2 separate regions of the Homo sapiens genome follow, and region 2 is linked to region 1. Evidence: fine-mapped expression QTL. A gene starts in region 1. The other region holds a variant in brackets. All regions are shown on one strand. Distances are between the middles of the regions.

What was found. PIP is the estimated chance that this variant, and not a neighbour inherited with it, causes the effect.
Region 2: its variant is fine-mapped to the expression of PHF14 in lung (TOPMed, PIP 0.91).

Annotation. Positions count from the first base shown.
Region 1 is chr7:10,969,304-10,980,685 of GRCh38, forward strand. It overlaps PHF14 (PHD finger protein 14), which reads left to right and starts at 4,569. Exons shown (of 18, transcript NM_001007157.2): 1 at 4,569-5,021; 2 at 5,532-5,642. The coding sequence starts at 5,021. RefSeq lists silencers at 3,764-3,813, 4,324-4,383, 5,364-5,413 and an enhancer at 4,339-4,633.
Region 2 is chr7:11,077,769-11,089,150 of GRCh38, forward strand. The region is part of intron 16 of PHF14 (PHD finger protein 14); the gene reads left to right. Among named protein-coding and RNA genes, the nearest start is that of PHF14, 110 kb to the left of the region's middle. The variant C/T (reference allele first, on the strand shown) is at 5,933.

The DNA.
Region 1 (11,382 bases):
TAGTTTAATTAGTTGTGAACCAGCACTATTATCCTTAGATTTACAGCAAACTAATTTTACTTTCTTGGTTTCTTAAAAAATTAATCAGGATCTGCAGTTTCTCTCTCAACAAAATAAGACAATTCATTTTTTTCTTCATTTATCTTATTTTACTTTCCCTAGGCACTTCATCTCTTTACCCCCTACATCTTGGATTTGGTTACCGTAATTTAGAATTATGACCCCTCTAGTTTGCATATCCTTGCTTAATAAAACTGTATTAAATCCCACAATCTCAGTGTTGACAATTATTCACAATTAATTCTAACTTATTTTCTTTTTCTCTTACATCATTTTTTCATTGCATGTCCTCTAATTTCTTGGATTTAAAAGACTTTTTTCTTAGAGTAATTTTGGAAATAGGGTACACTGTTATCTGCTTCTCAAAACTTTAAGTAACCAGACAGGTTATTAATATTATTTCCAGATTCTGGGTGATGAATCAGAGGCTCAATGTTGCCTTTTTTTAGGGTAACACAAATTCAGTGGCCAAGCCTAGACCAAAATTCGGATCTCCAGACTCTTAAGTTTGCTGTCTTTTGTATACATATTTGTTTCTTTTTCTTACAGTAGGTGTCCACAACAAGCTATTTATTTTACTATCTTTTGTTGGAGTAGTTTGAAAGACCATTTCTGAATATAGAACTCTGCTTTTCATAATTATTACTGATGCTTGTGCAGTCATATTTAGTTTGCTTAATTAGACAGAATTGTGGACATTAAGAATATTATTTGGCAAAATCCTACATTGAGGCAGTTTGTGCTCGCTGTTTTTTGGAAATGATAATTATTATATAATTCTTCTTCTTTGTGTAGTCATGCATAAATATCTTGAATTTGAATACCTGGCAACTAGAATAAAAGAGAAACATGATGGATTACATAACATAAATATTCTACCAAGAAGATGGCAGAGCATTAGGAGACTCAAAATTTTCTGAGTTAAGGCTGGGTGCAGTGGCTCACACTTGTAATCCCAGTACTTTGAGAGGCTGAGGTGGGCGATCAGTTGAGGTCAGGAGTTGAAGGCCAGCCTGGCCAACATGGTGAAACCCTGTCTCTACTAAAATTATAAAACTTAGCCAGGGATGGTAGCAGGCATCTGTAATCCCAGTTACCAGGGAGGCTGAGGCAGGAGAATCACTTGAACCTGGGAGGCGGAGGTTGCAGTGAGCTGAGATTGCTGCCACTACACACTCCAGCCGGGGCAACAAAGCAATACTCCATCCCCCTACAGCTCCCCCAAAAAATTCTGAGTTAAGAATGCCAAGAGTAATTTATCACATACGCCTTAAAGATGTTCAGCAGAATATTATTGGAGATGCTATTATAGCCAGTTTACAACCAATAAAGACAAATTCTTTATATGACATCAAAATGTAATTTCCTTTATAAATATGGGTGCAAAAATCAACAAAATACTAGCAAACTGAATCTAGCATCTATAAAAAGATTTATACAACATGACTAAGTAGAATTTATACTAGAAGTGCAAGGTTGATTAAACAAATAAAAATCAAGCAATATAGTAATATACTATATTGAAAAAATAAAGTACAAAAATCACATGATCATCTCAATAGACAGAGAAAGAGTATTTAATAAAATTCGAAGCTCTTTCATGATAAAAACAGTTGGCAAACTAGGAACAGGAAAGTTCCTCCACCTGAAAAAGGGCATCTTTGAAAAACTATAGATAACATAAGACTAAGTGGAAGACTGAAAGTTTTCTTCCTAAAGTCAGAAACAAGACAAAGAAGTCTTTCCCTCACCACATTTATTCAACAATGTTCTGCAGGTTCTAGGCAGAGCAATTAGGCAAGAAAAAGCAATAACAAGCATTCACAAAAGGGAGGGAAAAGTTCAAGCCCCTTCATTTAATATCATTTCCTGGAAGTTGCACGTACTGTTTCTGCTGACATGCAATTGGCCAGAACTTAACTGCATAACTCCAAGCAACATCAAGAAAGTTGGTATATTATGTCTTTATTCTTTGAAAACTTATGCCCAGTTAAAATTTGGAGCTTCCATTTTTGAAGAAAAAGGAGATAATGGGTATTGGGAAACAACCAGCAGTTCTTTCCATGTTTATTGAATGCAGGTCAAAAAAAGGAATTAGGTAATTTTTTTCTTTTCTTTTTACCCTACTTTTCTTCTTCCTTTTTCCCTCCCTCTCTTCCTTCCCTCCTTTTCTCCTTCTTTCCTTCTCTTACTTTCTTTCAATACATGAATTGCAAAAGATTAATAACCTAAATGCAATATTGTCTTCTGGATTGGATCTTGGAACAGAAAAAAGGACATTAGTAGGAAAATTAGTGAAATATAAATAAAGTGTTTAGTCAACAAAACTGTACTCATGTTAGTTTCTTAGTTTTGATAAATGTATTATGGTTATATAAGATACTGATATTAGTGGTAGCTAGGTGAAGGATGTACAAAAACTCAGTATTATTATTGCACTTTTTGGTAAATCTGAAATTACTTCAAAATTAAAAGTTAAAAAAAAATGATTGCTGATATCCAATGGCCACAGGTTTGGAAAACTAGAAAGAATTCTTATCCACTCTTGGTGGTATATATATTAGTACAGACTTTTTTTTTTTTTTTTTTGAGACGGAGTTTCACTCTTGTCACCCAGGCTGGAATGCAGTGGCGTGATCTCTGCTCACTGCAACCTCTGCCTCCCAGGTTCAAGTGATTCTCCTGCCTCAGCCTCCCAAGTAGCTGGAATTACAGGTATGTGCCACCACGCCCAGCTAATTTTTGTATTTTTAGTAGACACGGGGTTTCATCATGTTGGGCAGGCTGGTCTCGAACTCCCAACCTCAAGTGATCCACCCGCCTCAGCCTCCCAAAGTGTTGGGATTACAGGCGTGAGCCACCGCACCCGGCAGTACAGTTTTTCTAGAGCAACTAGGTGTTATTTATTAAAGTAAATGAATTAATACATTTTGATTCTGAAAATCTCCTTCTAGAAATTAGTTTTACATAAACACGAATGCCAGATTTTGAATTTCTCTTTTAGATGATTCAGCATAATTGCTCCAAATAAATCTAAAAGGCTATTGTCAAACAGTGGAATATTTGGATTTATAATTTCATAGATAAGACTATCAGTCCATGATATGGTTGGTGTTTAAAGTAGAATGGAAGTGAAATTCCCAGAGTGGAGTTTTTAAAATAACCAAGTTCCTAGGATTTTAACTGGAAGAATAAATATCTGAAAGGCAATGAGGAGTATTAAGCATGGGATGCCACTTCTGCACCTTGAGAAAATGAAGTATGGAAGGATGAGTGGTTTTCATTTGAGAGGGCTGCAGGGTAACTGTTTCTATTTCAGATGAGGAGGTAAAAAGAATGGGCATTGAAAAGGAAAAATGTTTACTAAGTAGGTTATACATTTTGGAATAGAAGTTTCTATAGCACAATAGAAAAGTTTGAGAGGTCACATGGCAATGATAGTTTGGGTGAGAGTGAGGCAGGAGAATAGGGTGTGGAGGCAGGGAACCTAAGGATGTGTCACTCCGACTTCCTAAGAACTAAATTGAAAGGAAACCCCTAACTTTCCATGCCTAAGTAACAAAAGGACCAGAGGCTACTCCCTTTGCAAACCCCCACTTTTTCTGCAGGGCAGATGGGAAATTGGCTGTGGGCAGCAAATCAGACTGATTGCAGGAGAGTCTTCCTTTGCATAGAAGTATCACTTTGTAACTTCACCATCTGCAAGAAATCAAACTGATTGCAGGGGAAATCTTCCTTTGCATAGAGGTATACCACTTTGTAACTTCACCCTAGCCTCTGATTGATTGCTTTTTGCACCAATGTTTGCACAGGAGCATGACCTTTGTAACTTCACTTCAGCCTCTGGTTGGCTGCTTTCTGCAACCAATCAGACTGATTGCGCGTTACTTCATTTACATGAGGTGAGCATTAGGTGGCCAATAGGAAGCTTCTAGAGGGTATTTGGACTCAAGATTCTGTATCCGGGCCCTTGAGCCGCTGCTCAGGTCGCTTCCGTACAGAGCGTGCTTTAATTTTCAATAAGTCCCTGCTTTTGTTGTTTTGTTGCTTCATTCTTTCTTTGCTTTGCTGGGCGTTTTGTCCAATTCTTTGTTAAAAACGCCAAGAACCTGGACAACTTGCAGTCACGATCCTCTACCGGTGACAATATCATTTAAATATTGGTAGTGGCTTAAGGTAGCAAACATCCCTTTGTGGAACGTTTACTCAGTAAATCCTTAAAAAACAGATCAGAAACAAAAACTGGCCTCCCAGGGATTTGGACTCAGGAGGTGAATTAGGCGCGGAGAGGGCGGAGCCTTTGGGGTTTATGGGCGGAATTGCACAGGGTTTGGCGGGGATCTCTGCTCCGCCTTGGCACTACTCGGCTCCGCTCGCCTCCGCGCGGCTCCCTGGGCTTTCACTCGGCTCTGTTCGGCTCCTGCTCGGGAAGGGTGCGCGGGGGCGAGTCCTGCGCATGCGCCCTCAATTCCTGCTGCTCTCAGGGCTGCGCTCAGCCTCGTGTTTTCACTTCCTTTTCAGAGCTGTATCCGGGTCGCTGCTTTCCCTATTGTCTGAGGCAGCCGCCCTCGCGCTGTGCAATTTCTGGTCTTTCGTTGCTTCTGGTCCAGGCTAATAAAGTTTTTCTTTCTTTAATTTTTTTTCTTCTAGTTTTAACGGGAGAAATTAACTCCCCGGGGCCGCCGGGTTGACTGCGCTGCCTGGGCCGGAGGTCTTCTCCGGCCAGGGAGCGCTGTGGGAAGGGGCTCGAGCGGCCAGGGCCAGGCGAGGCCGGGGGGGCGGGGGGTTAGGGGACCGCGGGGCTACTCTTGGGAGCGCCCCTGTCCGGCTGGCTGCGCGCCGGTTTTAAATAGCATCTTTCGGACTTGTCTTCGCGGCCCCAGTCCCCGACCTCGGCGCTGCCTGGGCTCCTGCAGCCTCTCCCTAAGTCTTCTCCAAACGACCACCTCACGGATTCCTTAGTAAGTGTATCCGAGGCCTCTGCGGCGAGAGGTCCATTTCAGCCATTCTAGAAGTCAGGGCCGGTGGGAGCAGGGCAGGGGTGGGAGAGTCCTGCGGGAAAGCAGGATTGGTGGACCCTCGCCCTCCATGGTCCGCGGGAATGAAGCCCGCTTGTTTTATTCCCTGATTTTTGCCGTTTTTATTGACTGTTACGATGTCTAAGTGGGGGATTACGAGGAAGGTGCAGAAACATCTCGAAAAGATGAGCAAGAGGGTCAGCTTCGATTTTAGCTGGTCTGAGTTGGCGTTGGCAGCATCAGGGCTGGAGCTGCCTTTGAAACTGCCCGTGGAGCTGTCCAGCCCTCCCCACCCTGCTTCTGCACCCCAACCTTCTCCTGACCCCTTTTGCTGAGAACTCAGTTAGACAAAAATTCCTTGTGCGAGGTCATCTTTATGTTCTCTTAGCACCACAACTCTCCCCTGTGTTTGGTGTGATTATGAATGACAATGTAATTTTTTTCTCTTCACAGTGGATCGCAGCTCCAAGAGGAGGCAGGTGAAGCCTTTGGCAGCTTCTCTGCTGGAAGCTCTTGATTATGATAGTTCAGATGACAGTGATTTTAAAGTTGGAGATGCCTCAGGTAAATATTTCCTTCTCTCTTCCCCTTTCCCAGCTTTCTGGAGTTAGGCTTATTTTTAGACTTTTTAAATCGGTTTTGATTAAAATGCCAATTTTAAGTGAAAGCACGTAAACTTCATTTATTTTGTCCATTTGATTTCCCATTTTGCCTTTAGATCCTGTCACTAGACCTATAATTGCTTCTGTTTTCCTCAGAGATAATTAGCAGTCAGGGGAAGGACTTTTTCCAAAGATGCAAAAGGATTTCTCTGTTTTACACCTTAAAATATATTTATGCTTATATTATAGAGGAAAAAACTGAAAGATATCCCGAAGTAGAAAAGTATCCTGAGAGGTGTGTGGACCATTAATAGTCCCTGAGCAGGGTTCTTCTTTTTTCAGATCACTTGACAATCTCTTAGGGGAGTTTTGCTTTTTTTGTGTATTAGCTCTTTTACTAGAATAAAATTGACCAGAGTAAGAGTTGCACTTCAAATTATAGTAGGTGCTGGACCTTGTGGATTGGGCCTTTCAGATGTCTCTGAAGTATAAGTCATGCATGCTTGCTCACTATATTTAGTAATTTTAAAAACTTTTTTTAAAGGTCGTATATTCACATTGTACTAAACTGGAAAACAGAAAAGTATGATTTTCCTTTGTATTTTCTGTTCAGTGTACCTTATGTATATATACAGTTTCAATTGAAGGAATCTGAGAAACAAAAATTATGTTTAATTTAAATGTTTTATGGGAAAAATACTGATAAACATGAACAATGAAAATTATGTGTAATTCCACCTCTTTTGAAAATTTTAATAAAGTGAGATGAAAATTTAAATAAAATGAGAAGTAAAAGCCTTTCCAGTTTCATCTCTTCAACAGTTTTTAAATATACTTCCAGAGAGTTTGCCGTGGTTAGTCACATCTCTCCTTCTTCTGGTTTTCCCTTGTCTTTTTCCTGCTAGGGATAGTAGGAAGGGATGAACGAAATTATATTACTGTTGCTACTTTTAGTAGCATCAACAGCAGAATTTGCATTGTGATTTACTGATAACTTTTTGTTTGCATAATCTCACTTAATTTTCACAGTAACTTAGTGAAGGAGATACCATTTTACAGGTAACAGGGGTATTGAGTTTAAAGAACTGGCATGAGGTCACTCAGGCAGTAACGGATCCAATGGATTTGACTTCAGAATTTAGTCTGTTTATCTGCTTGGATCCCAAGAGTTGATGGACGGAATCTTAAACAGAAACTGACTATTTGGTTACTAATTGAATTCATCCGCAGCAATCAAAAATTGATAAGTTTATCTTGATTAACTGTTTTTTTATCCTTTGCTTCTCAGCTCTTTATCTCCCATTTAGTTGGTTTGCTGATATTTGGTATTTCCAAAGAAGGGAAGGGGAAGGGAAAGGAGGTAAAATTTAAATCTTAGTTCTCTTGGTAAAGACCTTGGCAGATAAGAATATTCCTGGCTAGGATGTAGTTTTGGTTTGTTATGGTTGTGGTTGTAAACTTTGACAAACATAGTTGGGTCGTGGAAGTTACGAATTCTTTGAATATGGGAACAATTCTAAAACTTACATTAAGTATTACATTATTATGTGACAATAAATCTTGACTTTATGGACAATTTGTTTCCAAGGTTTGTTCATTGAGATGGAATATTCACAGGTATCACTTCTTTTTCAAGTGGTAAAACAATCTGATACAAACATAAAGTACTTTCTCAAAATATTTTATGATATCGAGCTAAGTAGAGATTTCTGACCTTGTTAAATCCTAATTATAGTTGAAGAGAACTGTTATTTGTGAAAAATGATAGGATGAGTTTTGTTAGGTTGATATATCTATATATCCCTTAAACACACTAAAAATATTTACTTTCTGTTCCCTCTTGTAATATAATATCTAGTATGCTGCACTCATAATTTACCTTCCTGGCCCCCTGGGGAGCTTAAATTTGTGATCTGTGGTCTCAGGTCACAAATTTGTATGTATAGTTCTTGGTATTTATTGTAAAAGGGAATTTAGAAGAAAATGATTGTATTTAAAATGATTAGTAGTCAACAGAAATTGAATCATATTTTTGACTCTTGTTTTAGGTGCATTGATGCTCTGCATAGCTGAGATATTCGCTTACTCTAGATTACCATTGTTTTCCATTTGAATCTTTTCTGTGCCTGAGATAGTATATATTTAGTTGGAGTCTTGTAGAGAATAAGACATTAGTCCTATCACTGGTTTCCAAACATGTTGAAGTTGTGGATTCCCAGCCCTACTTACGAATAGGAGATTAAATTGGAAGTAGAGAAATGGTAGCTAAACATCTGTCTGATCATATCTTCTTTCAAAACAACTTCTAGAAATGACTCATTGAATGAACTACGGACTTCCTTAGAACTTAATATTAAAGTGGTTAGATTCGTTGGCCTTAATTTTGGCTAACTGGATTCCGTGGATCAATTTCTTCTTACCTTCATCTTGAAATCTGAAATTCTGACTATAAAACTTTTTATATTTCTGTTTGGTTTTAAGAATAAATATAGAAAACATTTGCAGATAAACATAATTTAACTCTATCATAAAATAGAAACAAATCAACATTGGTAAAGAATGACCCACCCATAAGATTGGCAAGTGATTACGAGCCTGTACCTTTAGAAAATTATGAAACTGAAGATAGTTTATATTTTATTTTTAATGCAAAAGCAAAAGTAAGCTTCTCATTTTTGATTGAAAGCAGTCAATAAAGTTTGAAATGAGTAAGTCCTAAAATAGGATATATATGCATTATTAGAATTATGGTGATAACCACCAGAAGAACCATATGTAGAAATGTTAGGTTGAACTATATGGAATTACCAGTTTTGTAGGTCCAAAACACACAGTCAAATATTAGCAATTTCATGGTTTTACCTAGTTAAAGTGTTGATATTTGAGACTTGGGCATAGGGTTGGGTGTATGATAGGAGACTTATTTACATTTGGTTATCTGCTACATTAATTGAATGTTTTAAAGAATGTTTACATCTTTTTAAAGATGCAGACATGTATTACTTCTATTAACCAGACAGATTAGCCATGCTCTCTACCCCTATCCCCCACCAGGCAAAGTAAAATGGGGTTAACTTTAGATCTTGATCAAAAGTTAGTTTAGTTAGGCCATATTGCCAGGAAATAATTTAATGAGAAGTGTCAGCCTGAGACTTTGGTGGTATTTTGTGCTTAATCTGACTTTGAATAAGTGGACCAAGATGTGTTCATTGATTGTCCGTAGTTTAGCCCTTTGCTAGATGTTATGGTGAATTTACAAAACAGTAGTAATAATATTAGAATAAGTAAGTAAAATAACATGTAAGTAAAATAAAAATTAGAATAATTAAATAAAATAGTTGATACAAAGGATGGTTGATCACTTGTGTAGTTCAAGTCTTTAATAGGAAATGAGATTAGATTGATGTAGAACAATTTCATTGAGGAGAGGAGGTAAGAGTGGAACTATGAACAGAAGGATTTAGATAAACAGCAATCTTGGTGAGGCAAAAATTAAAAGTGTTGAGACTTGGAATTGTTTTTTTATATTTGGGGATCAGTGTTGAGTAAAAGTAGAAGAGATAAGCCTGGAAAAATAGAATAAGGTCAAATTGTGGCTGTATATACGAGTTAATGGTTTCTCAACCTTGGCGCTATTGGCATTTTGTGTTGGATAATTTTTTGTTGTGGAGGCTTGTCCTGTACCCAGTAGGATGTTTAGCAACAACAACCTTTTCCTCTACTAGATGCCAGTAGCATCTTTCCTACCTGCCCCAGCCTCACCTCCACCTCCACTTCCACTGTTGTGGCAACTATTGTTTCCAGACATTGCCAGTTGTCCTCTGGGGGAAAAAAATGTTCCCGTTTGAGTACCACTGGCTCATACAAACCAAGATGACATAGCTGGAACTAGAATCGGAAGTGGAGGATGAGTTGTGTTGACTGATTGGCTGTCTTCAAGACATATACGGTTTTGGTCAAACATAGCCCTGGGATAGCTGTAAATAACTAGTAGAATAGTGATTGATCTGTTATCTATTGTGTATATTTATAGTACTAACACTGTTGTACCAGATCAATGAACAGAATTAGATTGATGAAATTGATGAACAAATTTATATTGCATATATTGTATATTAGCATAAAACTAAATTAAATCATATTGATTTTGTTATGGGGAGAACATTGGATATAATGGTATTGATGGTTGATATTAATTAAATTAATTTTTATTTTATTATTTGATATTGTAAAGGGATTCTTGAAGGTTGGTGTTTTAAATTCTAATTTTAAAATTTATTTTATTTTTTTGTCTGGCCATTACCACTCAGAGGAGTTTTTAAAAATTCTGTAATGGTAAAAAATTTCTTAACTGTCTGTTAGTTGAAATAGCTGTTGCTTGGAGAGATTCTGATATATTGTATGTTTGAGAAAGGTTATCTTTTATTTAACCAAATGGGAAGTAGGATTTCAATTTTAAAGATATATTTTTTTCAAACGTAAGAAAGGTTTATTGTAGACTTGAAATTAACTCTTTCTGCCTAAGATAATTTCTCCAGTATATTTCTTTTTTTCCTTTCCTTTCTCTCTCTTTTTTTTTTTTTTTTGGAACATAGCACAGAGTCATTCTTTGATGACTAGGAAATTTTGTCTTTGCAGCCTATGGAAAAAATAGCCAAGGGCCTTGATTTTTCTCATTGTCATTATTACCCAGCTATGGTTGTAAATAAATATGGTTTATCTCCATTCCTCCAGTGCATATGTACAAAAAAGAAATAGTGACTAATTAGATGAAGAAGTTATTTTTCAGATATCAGAGAAAGATAAGATTTGATGTATTGCTGATCCCTATAGAAAGATAAAATTTGATATATTGCTGATCCCTGTAGTTGGAGTCTGACTAATGTACTATATTTGGAGAATGAGGGGTTGGGTAAGCTATTAGGAGTTGGTTTTGTGGAAAAATGTCCATTCTTCTAATAATAGTTAACAAACATAAAACATTAAAAATTTTTTAAAAAATTGCTTTCTATTCAGGCATGGTTATAAATCAAAAACAGAATCAAGGAGTCTCAATTTACCTCTCATTTGAAAAAATAATTAATTAATTGGCATTGGCAACTACCAAAACAAAATCACAAAAATCTCTGACATTTTGTAAAATTTACCAAGTAATAGCAAAGTTGGATTGGTCTCAATTTTGATCAGCTACCCACACTTCTGCCCCAGTTAATCTTACTTTTGCGTCTATCGTGAAGTTTTGATTGATAAAAAGCCTTCTAGAAGGTTGATCCAGAAGAAAAGTACCTTTTCTTTCATCTTCATCTCCTAGCTCTCTTAATTATGGCATTGCTTCCCTTCTAGAGCCTAAGGTGTTTCAGTTTTCTTTAGTCAGTGTGCATAAAAAATCTTTCTGTGTCTTAGAAGTGTTGAGTCAACTCTGGTTATTATTTATTAAATCATAATTTTAAAATGTCAAGAGATTACTATTATTGTTATTTTTACCAGATGTGATTTTTCTTGGTAGGTTGGGTTTAATTGCTGTGAGTGGTTTACAAAATCATAATTTTCTTAATGCTTTAGAGACTGAAAAGAAGTCACTTGTTTGTGAGTAATATTGGGTCCACACTCTTGAAATCCAAGAAGCTTAAAAATCCAAGTGTTTTGTAAGGTTCACACAAACTTACTTGATGGCAAAGCCTAACGGAACTGGTAGGAGTTTA
Region 2 (11,382 bases), 110 kb after region 1:
GTTAAATGAGTGGAGCAATACAAGGTAATAGACAAAGAATTGCAGTCACTTGAAATTTAGTAAGCTTAGCAAGTAAGAACATTATCTATCTCAGAATCTTCATAAAATAAATGTCAGTTTGTTCCTCAGTTGAGAAGTTTTGCACCATTAAGTTGCTTCTCTCTTCAGCGTGCATGAAACTGAGGCTTAAATTTCAAGAAGATATAACCTCAGAATTACATAACCTTAGACTGATCTTTTTCAAGTATTAAAATGCCTGAGTATATGTGGCATGTGGGTATTTTAGTTCACACTGTGGTATTTGAATAGAAATGCTTTCACATTTTTGTTTTCTGACGAAAGAGAAGAGAAGCTATCTAACCTCATTTTTTCCCCTTATTTATCCTTATTCACTTATTCTCTAGGTGGCATGTGTGTCATTAGCTTAACCCTTATTTTTCCCTTAATATTGTTGACATACATGGAGAGGTTTGTTAACTAGGAAAACCAGGATGATTATCCTGCCTCTTTTCTGGGCAGTGATAGTGCATTTAATATTTATCTTAGTGAATAACAGAATATGAACCTCACTTGAAAATTCGGTCAATAACTAACTAGGAAAAATGGTGGGGAGAGGGCATAGAGCTAAAATTAAGAGGTTGAAATTTTGGTTAAGTCTCTGCCAGGGAGAGGCTGTATAACCATGAGAAATGCAAATAACCTCTCTGCGAGCCAGTTTTCTCATTCATAGAATGAGCAATGCATTAGATTGATTTAAAAATCCCTTTTAATTTTCAAATTTCATGATTTTGTAATGCTTCAGAAGTTAAGAAGAGAAAGAAATTCAGAAATGCAAAGTATTATTCAGGTGTAAGGAATGTGAGTCATTTATAGAATAAGCCTCTCACCCAACAGTGCTATTTTTATTTGTATTATTGACCCATCGTATTTTTAAAGTTTTGTTCTTATTTATATATTTTTTAGACTATAGCTTTGAAAAACATGGGAATTAATTATAACGCAGTCACTTTTCATTTATTACTAATTGAGATAAGTTTGTAAGAAACATTTTGTAGTAGAAAATGTTTTAATCTGAAAAATTTGTCTTTTCCTTTCTGTAAAACAAAGTAAATTGAGCTTTTAAATGGACTAAAATATGTAGATTAATATGAATTATATTATCTACATAAGTATTTTTAGCATTTCTCATATTTATTATCTATGTAGCTACTAATGTATGATATATGGTTGCTTTTTATTTTAATTCTTAAGTGCCTAAATTCCTTCTGTGAAAGTTTCAAGGAGCAATTACATTTATCCTAAACTAAGATGAATTAAGGTTATCAGTTTTTGAATGAGCTCTAACTATTACAATGAACTTAAAAGGATTTAATCTAAACATACCTATATATATAGTATGTGCCCTTTCAAAAGGAGCTTCTTCTAATTCTGCTCTATGTCTCTAGACTGACCTCATGTATTATTAATAAAATATCCAGAATTAGGTTGTCTTTGTGAGATGGCTCGGTAGCTGGCTTTTGCCATGGCATATAAGCTGAGCGGTTATTCTAAATCACATCATTACTTTCAGCCAGATAACTGCTAAAATCACCACATTGTGGTTTCCTGAAAATGCCATAATCTTTCAAATGCCACATTAAACCTAGAGGAAAAAGCCATTCGTAGTACCTGCACAGTTATGTAGAAGAATGAACCATGAACCAAGTGAAAAGATGTTCTGGAATAATAGTAACATTTCCCTTGATGTATGTATTTCCTATTACTTTTTTTGACATAAAATTTTGCAAAATGATTTAATGTTGGCATTTTGTTTTGCTGACTTTCTTTTTCTTCATTAAAAAGAAACCAAAGTTAGGATAGAAGTGTAGGGGAAGAGTGACCAAGCACTAAATTCTATAATATGACTCTCTGTTTTCAAAATAAATTAATTAAATATGTTAGGAACATGGCTTTTCTCCTTTTACATTGTATGCTAACTGTGATATACAAAATCATTTAGCTGTATTATCAAAAATGATTTTGTTTGTTCTTTACAGTTAATTTTTTTTTCTTCATTGTCGTCATCCTGTTTTTTCTTCTTAGTAACCTTTGATCATAAATGACATGTCAATAATCAGGAAAGCTTTATGACATAGAAATTACCAATTGCATGTAACTCAAAAAGTGCCATACTTTTGATTGTCACTTTTGTTGCATATTGCTAGAGCTGATTATACAAGGAAACAAAATATGAATAGACTCAGTGGTCTAAAAGATGGATTCTTGTCAACTTTAAGAGGATACATTTTTACTACGAATGAATGTCATAAAGTTATTCCACGTAAAATGAGTTCAAAGTTTATTTGCACCTGTGAGAACATACCAAGTGTAGTTGGATAGAGGAAGTAACTTGCCAAAATAGACTTTGTAAGAATTTTGTAGCATTAGATTTTCAGTTTTAGCTTTGATGTGGAGTACCTAGGTGTAGGCCCTGTCACATCGTTATTTAAAAAACAATAAAATTTAAAAAAAACTTGATAACTTATATTACACGTGCATACTTGTTAACATCTCACTTTAAAAAATGTATTGGGTAGTGATTGACTAAACACTACTTGGTGTTTTTTTCCCCCCTCAGAATTATAGAATTTTTCATAAAAGTTGCAATTTCAATTAAGGGAATGGAAATTGGGTTGAAGTTTCTCAGTCAGTATGGCATCAGTAGTTCCTTTTCACTCAACTAAATAACTTTTTCAGTAGATTTTATTGCTCTTTATGGAACTCTGCAGGTATAGATTAGATTCAGTTTTTAAATAAACATTAACTCTGCTGGTTTTTCTCCCTGATGTCTCAAAATAGAAGGGTTTACATTTAGTCAGCAATTCTTTGTCTTCATTTTATCTTATTTAATTTTTTGCAAACAACTCTTTTCTAGATCAAAAGTACTATTCAGGACATTCTGCAGTGCGGATATATATCCTAATGGTTTCAACCAAAAATGACTGAAGGACTTTGTTAGTGATGTGATTAAAGCATGCCCTAATGAGCAAATGCATTAGAGGGCCATCAAGCACAAAGTCTTGAATTTTGAATATAGCAGAAACAGCTAGTTAATATTACTAATCCATGTGTTAATTGCGCTACAACAGTAATGAAGATAATGTCTAAGACACTGTTGTCATTCCTAGAGTGTTGCTGGTGATTTGGCCTAAGGTGATAGACTAAAATCAAAGACTTCACCATTATACAATTCATTTATGTAACCAAAAGCCATTTATACCACAAAAGCTATTGAAATTAAATATATATGTATATATGTGTGTGTGTATTTATATGTATATATATGTGAGTGTGTGTATATAAATATATGTATGAAACTATAAAAGAAGTACTTGCAAGAAATGTGTCATTCTAGTTTGGAAAACGAGATAAGCACAGAGAAAGTTAAAATCCCTTTTACCCTGGTAGTAGAAAATCAAAGTAGTAAAACTTTTCTGGGGAATAATTTAGCAATGTGAATCAAAGGCATTAAGCATGACAATACTATTTGTAAAGTAACAGCACTTGGAGGACTCTTTCCAGAGGAATATTCTGAAATTAGCTCAATTTTTATATAAGAATATTCTTTATGGTGCTCATTATAATAGTGAAAAATATTTGGAACCAACACAAATGCCTGGTATTACAAGAGTGGTTAAATAAATTAATAATATACCGTAAATTTTCATCCTCTTATTTGACCCCTTATTCAGCCATTTTTTAAAAAGAGTATTTCCTGTGTGGGAAAACATTTAAGTTTAAGTTAGAATCGTCCCATATTTGTTTAAGATTTATCGTGGTGACCCACAACTGTAATCCCAGCACTTTGGGAGGCCGAGGTGGGCGGATCATGAAGTCAGGAGATCGAGACCATCCCGGCTAACAGGATGAAACCCTGTCTCTAGTAAAAATACAAAAAATTAGCGGGGTGTGGTGGCACGTGCCTGTAGTCCCAGCTACTTGGGAGGCTGAGGCAGGAGAATCACTTGAGCCCCGGAGGCAGAGGTTGCAGTGAGCTGAGATCGCGCCACCACACTCCAGCCTGGGCGACAGAATGAGACTCCGTCTCAAAAAAAAAAAAAGAGATTTATGATCTTAATTTTTTATAAATATTTTTATTTCATTTTAAAGCTTTTCTCTATCTTCATAGGTTTTTGATAGTGAAAGTATCTTACTTTTATACCAGAAAACTGGTTTTTAAAAGCTAATAGTGTACGTAGAATTCTAACAGAAGACTCTGGATATTAGATATCTCTTGACTGCCTTAGAAAATCAATTTGAGTGCAGTGGCTCACGCTTGTAATCCCAGCACTTTGGGAGGCCGAGGTGGGAGGATTGCTTGAGCTCAAGAGTTAAAGAGTAGCCTAGGCAATGTATCGAGACCTTGTCTCTAATAAAATTTTTAAAAAATCAGCTGGGCATAGTGACACGTGCCTATAGTCCCAGCTACTTAGGAGGCTGAGGTGGGAGGATTGATTGAGCTTGGGACATATTGAGGCTGCAGTGAGCCATGATCACGTCACTGTACTCCAGCCTGGGCAACAGAGCAAGACCCTGTCTCAAAAAACAAAGCAAACAAAAACATCAATTTAATAAAACCATTATGGAAAGGCATGAAACAAAGTCAATTCTCTTTTTGTTTGTCTATCCTAAATTAGCATAACAAATTTATAAATTTTCTTCCCTCACATTTTCAATGTCTATTTTGCATTATTTGCAGATAAGCTTAATTTTCCCTTGTTATTCAATCATTTATGCTTTCTGATTTATAAATTCAGCATTCAGTGCCTTTCTGATTTAATGACAATGAATTGTTGACTTGTACTTCCCAGTCTTCCTTATATCACAATTACTAGAAGATAAAGAGTTGGGGATAACTAAACATACTCAGTTTATCCTGACCAAATAGATATTTCTCCATTTCCTTCTTTATCACACATAGTACTTCCACTCAGCTATGTCAGGAGCCTCTCTTTAGTCTCAGCCTTCACACTCAGTAGAATTTTGGTTTCATTTTTTTCTTCTGTGTGGGATATGACAAGATTTCTCTTCAAATAGCCTATTAATCCTTTATTCTTTAATCCACAGTACCCCTCCCCTTCCCTTTTCTTCTCTTTTTCTTTCTTTCTGCCTTTACTACATGCCCAGGCATGCCACAGCACCAATGGCTTATCAGTACCAGCTCACATTCCTTTCCTTATTTGGGAAGAAAACTAGCTCTCTAGCTTATCACAGATGACTTCTACCCCCTCTCCCCTCTCTCCCTTATGTGCACACCTTATCTAAGAAAAAGTTCAAATGTTCAGAGAATCGGGTCTAGCTTAGATTGTGCAGTCCAACCCCAGCCAATGGGGAAAGGGCACAGGGGCAGGATTTGCGTCAGGGATAAAAACTTTAACTCTCCTTTTGGTGACTGGCCAAAGAGAAGCACCCCTCTGTGCAGAAGTAAATTTGCTTTGCTGAGAAATCCTTTGTCTGAGTGTTTGTTTTCCTTAAGACTCCAAGCTTTATTTCTGACATTCTGGAATTATAGTTTGGAGTCTTATTCCTCACTTATATTGTGCTTTACCTTCTAGGTGTGTGCACACCGTCTCTCTTTCTCCCCGCACTCCCACCCCGTATCATCGTGACTGGAAAGCCACAGGAAGTTGCCACATAGAAATATTCTGCTTTCCCTATTTTTTTTTTTTTTTTTTTTTGATACAGAGCCCTTGCTCTGTCGCCCAGGCTGCAGTGCAGTCTCGGCTCACTGGAAACTCCGCCTCCCAGGTTCAAGCAGTTCTCCTGCCTCAGCCTCCCGAGTAGCTGGGATTACAGGTGCCCGCCACTACGCCCGGCTAACTTCTTTGTATTTTTAGTAGAGACAGGGTTTCACCATCTTGGCCAGGCTGGTCTCAAACTCCTGACCTCGTGA[C/T]CCACCCCCTTGGCCTCCCAAAGTGCTAGGAGTACAGGTGTGAGTCACCACACCTGGCCTGCTTTCCCTAATTTTACCTAATGAGAATTCTTATTTGGGATAGAATCACTTAGTAAGATAATTGTAAAAATGAGCGGTTGCCAGTAAAACCAGTGGGGCTGTACAAAAATTGGCTAGATTTAAGCTAGGAGAAAATAAATAATGGAGGAAAGCATTCCAGAGGAGAAGATGGGATGCCCGTCTGGGGCAATAGGTAGATTCAAGCAAAGTTTATGGAGAACTTTATCTGAAACAGCACAATTTGTGGTTGTTTTTATTGGAGTATAACATTACATAAGGATATGAGAAGATACGTTAAAGACACTATTTTTACAAGCATTACTATCTGTTTAAAATGTAGTAAAAATAATTACAGAACTTAAACTTCAAAGTATTTACAACCATTACTATTTGTTTAAAATAGAGTAAAAATAATTACAGAACTTAAACTTCAAAATATGTACACACACACAATCTGAAAAAATGTTAGAAAAGCAAATGTTTCAGCATACACAGATAGCCATTTATTTTGAAGATAATAGCAATTAGAACATAAGTATTACTTTATTGGATTTATTTTTAAAGGACCAAGTGTTATTTTCTTCTTACATCCTCTAAACCTGTCCCTTTGAGGGCACAGAATTAGTATATCATCATCCATACTTCTTTCCTCTAAGTACAAACAAAATATTCAGGGCCTACTGGTGGCCTCCTCTTTTCATTCCCATTCTAGCTATTATAGGGTTTACTCTTGTGTTTTTTTTTTTTTTTAACTTCACAATGCATAATGGACTTTTTCTCAGTAAATATAGAACTAAGCCAGTTTTTAAGTAGCTACAAAATATAATTTGGATGTATCATAATTTACTGTAATATTTCCCTATTGAAAATTTATTTTTTCCTGTTTAATTTCTATCCCAAAGTAAGTGTGCTAGGCCAAAATTATATGCATATTTTACATGTTAATGGATAATATTATCTTGTTACCCACTGGACATGAATGTGTAATGATGTCATAGCAGAGATTTTTGTCAATTTGATGGATGAAAATTGGCATTTTGATTGTATTTTGTAACAATCAGTTTCAATGTTTATTCACTCATATATTGATGAACCATTTGGATTTTCATATCTGTGAATTGCCTTTCCATATCCTTTGCCGCTTTATCTTTGGAGATTTTTTTTTCTTTTTTAAAAATGAGTTTATTACATATCTTTGTATAAGTTGCAAATATTTTCTTTAAGGTTGTTGGGTTTTTTGTTTGTTTTTGCTTTATTGCTAATGGTATGTTTTGCTGAATTGAAATTTACATTTTTTTGTGTTGTGATATTTATGTCTGAAAAACTAAAACCTAATTTGGTATGTTATGAAATAGACAACAGATATATATTATTTAGGCAGGAAATGCAAATTATCTGTCTTTGCCCTTTAGATGATCTATGTACAGTTTTGCTTGACATGTTTTAAAGATTTACTGAGATACTGTGTCATCTATAAATAATTTTTTAATTACACATTGCGACATTAGCTTAATATAAAAATACTGTTTTGCTTTACCAGAATGTCATATTCTTCTGTTGATTTAAAACAATTTATTAGTTTTCAGAGGCTCTATTTTGTTAATTTTTGAATATCAGGACTGCTGATTTTAAAACATGTTGAAGCTATCATTGATGTAACCTTTTGTGTAATGTATTGGATCTTAATGGTGTTGGATACATGTTTGGTGATTAATTCTAAAGGCAAAAATTATTGTTTCTATTGTAGATGTCAGTGGTGAACAATGAATTGCTAAATTTAATCGTTTTTTAATTTTCTAAATACTCATCCTATTTGGCCTCGTTTCAACATTTAACATTGGTGACCAACCTTCCTCCTTAAAACACTATCTTTTCTTGGTTTTGTTTTTTTCCTTTTTTTTGAGACAGTGTCTCACTGTGTTACCCAGGCTGGAGTGCGGGAACTGCAGGTGTGTGCCTGGCTAATTTTTGTGTTTTTTTAAGAGACAGGGTCTCACTATATTGTCCAGGCTAGTCTTCAACTCCTAGGTTCAGTCCTTCCACCTTGGCCTCCCAAAGTCCTGGGATTTGCTACTGATAAGTACAGTTTTTTTTAACCCTAGTTTTTATCAGTAGCAAAACATAATAGTTTAAAAAAAAAACTGTGGTTAAATGCTTGAATTCTGGAGCCTAGTTATTTGGGTTCAGATTTTCACCCAGCATTTATTAGTTGTAACTTGTCTAGTTACATAATCTTTGTGCTTTAGTTTCCTCATCTGTAAACCGAGGATAATAATCTTTTTTACCTCTAGAATTGCTGTGAGGATTAAATGAATAAAAATATGTAGTGCTTATTCTCCTTCATCAACTCTCTCCTGGACCGTTGCAATAACCATCACCTTCTCTAGTTTGAGTACCTCTAGTCTGTATCCAGTTGTCTTACTAAAACATGAATTTGTTACTATTGTACTCAAATTTGTCCAGAGGCTTCCCATTTCTTGCAAGGTAAATCTAGACTGTATAGCATGGCTTATAAGGCCCTCCAAACCCAGCCTCAGTCTGTCTTTTTGTTTTCATTTCCAGCTGTTCACAGCTCCAGGTGACCTAAATTTAGATCATCGCAGGTCATTTTTTCTTTCTAAAACTAACCTGTTGCTTTTATGCCATCTTGCTTTTATTATACTTTATGTTATACCTTCTCTCTGAAATAACCTCGTCTTTTTCTCTGGGATGAGGGCTTCTCAATCACTTATACTTAGTCCATATGTCTTGGTCAGTGTATGATTCTTAGTGTATAAGCACCATTTTTTAATAATTAAATTAATTTTAATATTCCAGGTCCGAAGCCAATGCTTATCACATAGTATGCCCCCAGTACATAACCAAATTGAAAAAACAATCTGTGGATTTTAATTAGTGGTACTTATTTAATATTTTAAAAGTTATAATTGTCAGATATTAATGGGATCTTGGCTTAGTTATGTTATTTTTATATACAAAACATTGAAATTTTGGTTAGATTGGAATGGTAGTTTTTGTCATCATTTGAATATAATTTGTATAGTAATTTAATTCATTGTTTTCATGGCTTTTATTGTTCTATGTGTATGATACCTATTAAATTCTTACTTGAGTTTTATTACTCTTAGTCCTCTTGGGTTTCTATGGATAGTACCTATTTCACTGAAATCTCTGCGTTATCTTTAATCTAAAAATATGTATGTACTATTAGTTTTTGCTAATTTTTACGTGGGGTAATATCAAGTCAGTTAAATTAGATCTCACTACATCTTAATCCAGTTTTGGGTAGCATAAAATAAATAAGGGTATACTTTGTTTGTAAAGTCCCTGGGTTCCCTTTTCATTCTATTCTGAAAGAAATTTGTTAACAAATTGAGAACTCCTAATTTAGCTTCCTGGAGTGATTTTATGGTAATAGAAAGCACTGCCCTTCTTTCTTTTTTTTTGTTAAGATGGAGTCTCGCTCTGTCATCCAGGCTGGAGTGCAATGGCACGATCTTGGCTCACTGCAACCTCTGCCTCCTGGGTTCAAGCGATTTTTCTGCCCCAGCCTCCCGAGTAGCTGGGACTACAGGCGCACACCACCATGCCCAGCTAATTTTTATATTTTTAGTAGAGACGGGGTATCACCATGTTGGCCATACTGGTCTCGAACTCCTGACCTTGTGATCCACCTGCCTCGGCCTCCCAAAGTGCTGGGGTTACAGGCATGAGCCACTGCGCCTGGCCAGCACTGTTCTTCTTTCTTGACCTGGTTTTTTTGTTGTTGTTTTAGATATAGGTACTATGATATTGGGCCATAATCTTTGGCTTTGCTCCAATGATTGACTTCTAAGGAATCTTTACTCACGCAATTATTCCTTTTACTGACTATTGCTAATTATATTGTGGATTATAACCACAACTATATTTGACTCCCAGTGGTCTTCTCACTTAATAATCTCTGTGTGTTTTCATTTGGCCCATGCTTCATCTGTGTGTGTGGTGTGTGTGTGATACATATGGACACATGTATGAGACTCTGTCACTCTTTTCTGGCATTGGATAAACATTTTGAAATATGCAATAAGAAATAAATAATTTAGGAACATTAGGATTATTTTAAGAAGTCGAATGGGGGCAAAAAGATTTTTAAAGTGTATAACTTGAAACTAACATAACAATTAAAAGTTACCCAGGGCAATTATTTATAAAACATAATTTTATAAGTTCTAATTTATAGAATAGTCCACTTTGTTTAATTCAGTATAAAATATAACTTTGCAGAGTTATCATTATTACAGTCATCCCTCCATATCCGTGGGGCATTGATTCCAGGACCGCTCTCGGATATCAAAATCTGAAGATGCTCAAGTCCCTTATGTAAAATGCCATCATGTTTGCATATAACCTATGCATATGTTCCTGTATGCTTTCAGTTATCTCTAGATACTTATTATAATACCTAATACAATGTAAATGCTATGTAAATAGTTGTTATACCATATTTTTTTTATTGTTGTATTGCTATTTTTTATTGGGTTTATTTTTCCCAAATATTTTCCATCCATGGTTGGTTGAATCCATTGATGCAGAACCTGCAGATATGGAGGGCAGACTGTATTAACTTCAGAAGGTAATGTGTGTTGTTCACATACACACAAACACACACACACACGCACACACACACACAGTCCTATTTCCCAACATGAGAAATTGTCAAATTTTTATGCATTAATAACTAATGAAAATAACAGAGTATTTTTGTTTTCATCCATTTTTAAATGTCTTTTATAAATGTATTTCATTTGTAATCCTGCTTTTTCATTTTAATGAAGAATTTCATTTTCTTACTGTTTTGGTTTTGTTAGTCATGAAATTTTTTTTAATCATAATAACCCTCCTGGGAATTTATCATAAGGAAATAGTCAAAGAAAGAAATGCTAATATAAAAAGACATTTATAGCTATAGTTATAGTAGGAAAATTATTCCCACCGTAAATATATAACTCCCCAAATTAAAACAACTGAAAACACTGTATAGGAGGGGAGTGATAAACTATAACAAATCAGTATTAAAAAATTATGTATCTCCTATAGATTTATAGATTATAAGATATTTACATAGGAATGAGGAAACCTGTTTTATGTCATAAGTATATGCTACTAAATTGTTACATATAAGTGGCTAAAGATTAGAAGGGAACAAAAAATGAGCATGGTATTATTTTAGAATGGTAGGAGTCTGAGTAAAGTAAAATCTTCAACACCATTTTAAGGACATTAATCTCATGAATGTAACATTTAAGTAGAGCCTCATTTTGAGCACAGACAGACACAAAGATTAATTAGATATAAAAAAAAAAAACCGTAGCCCTGATCAGTTAACCGCAGCAAATAAAAACCTAAGA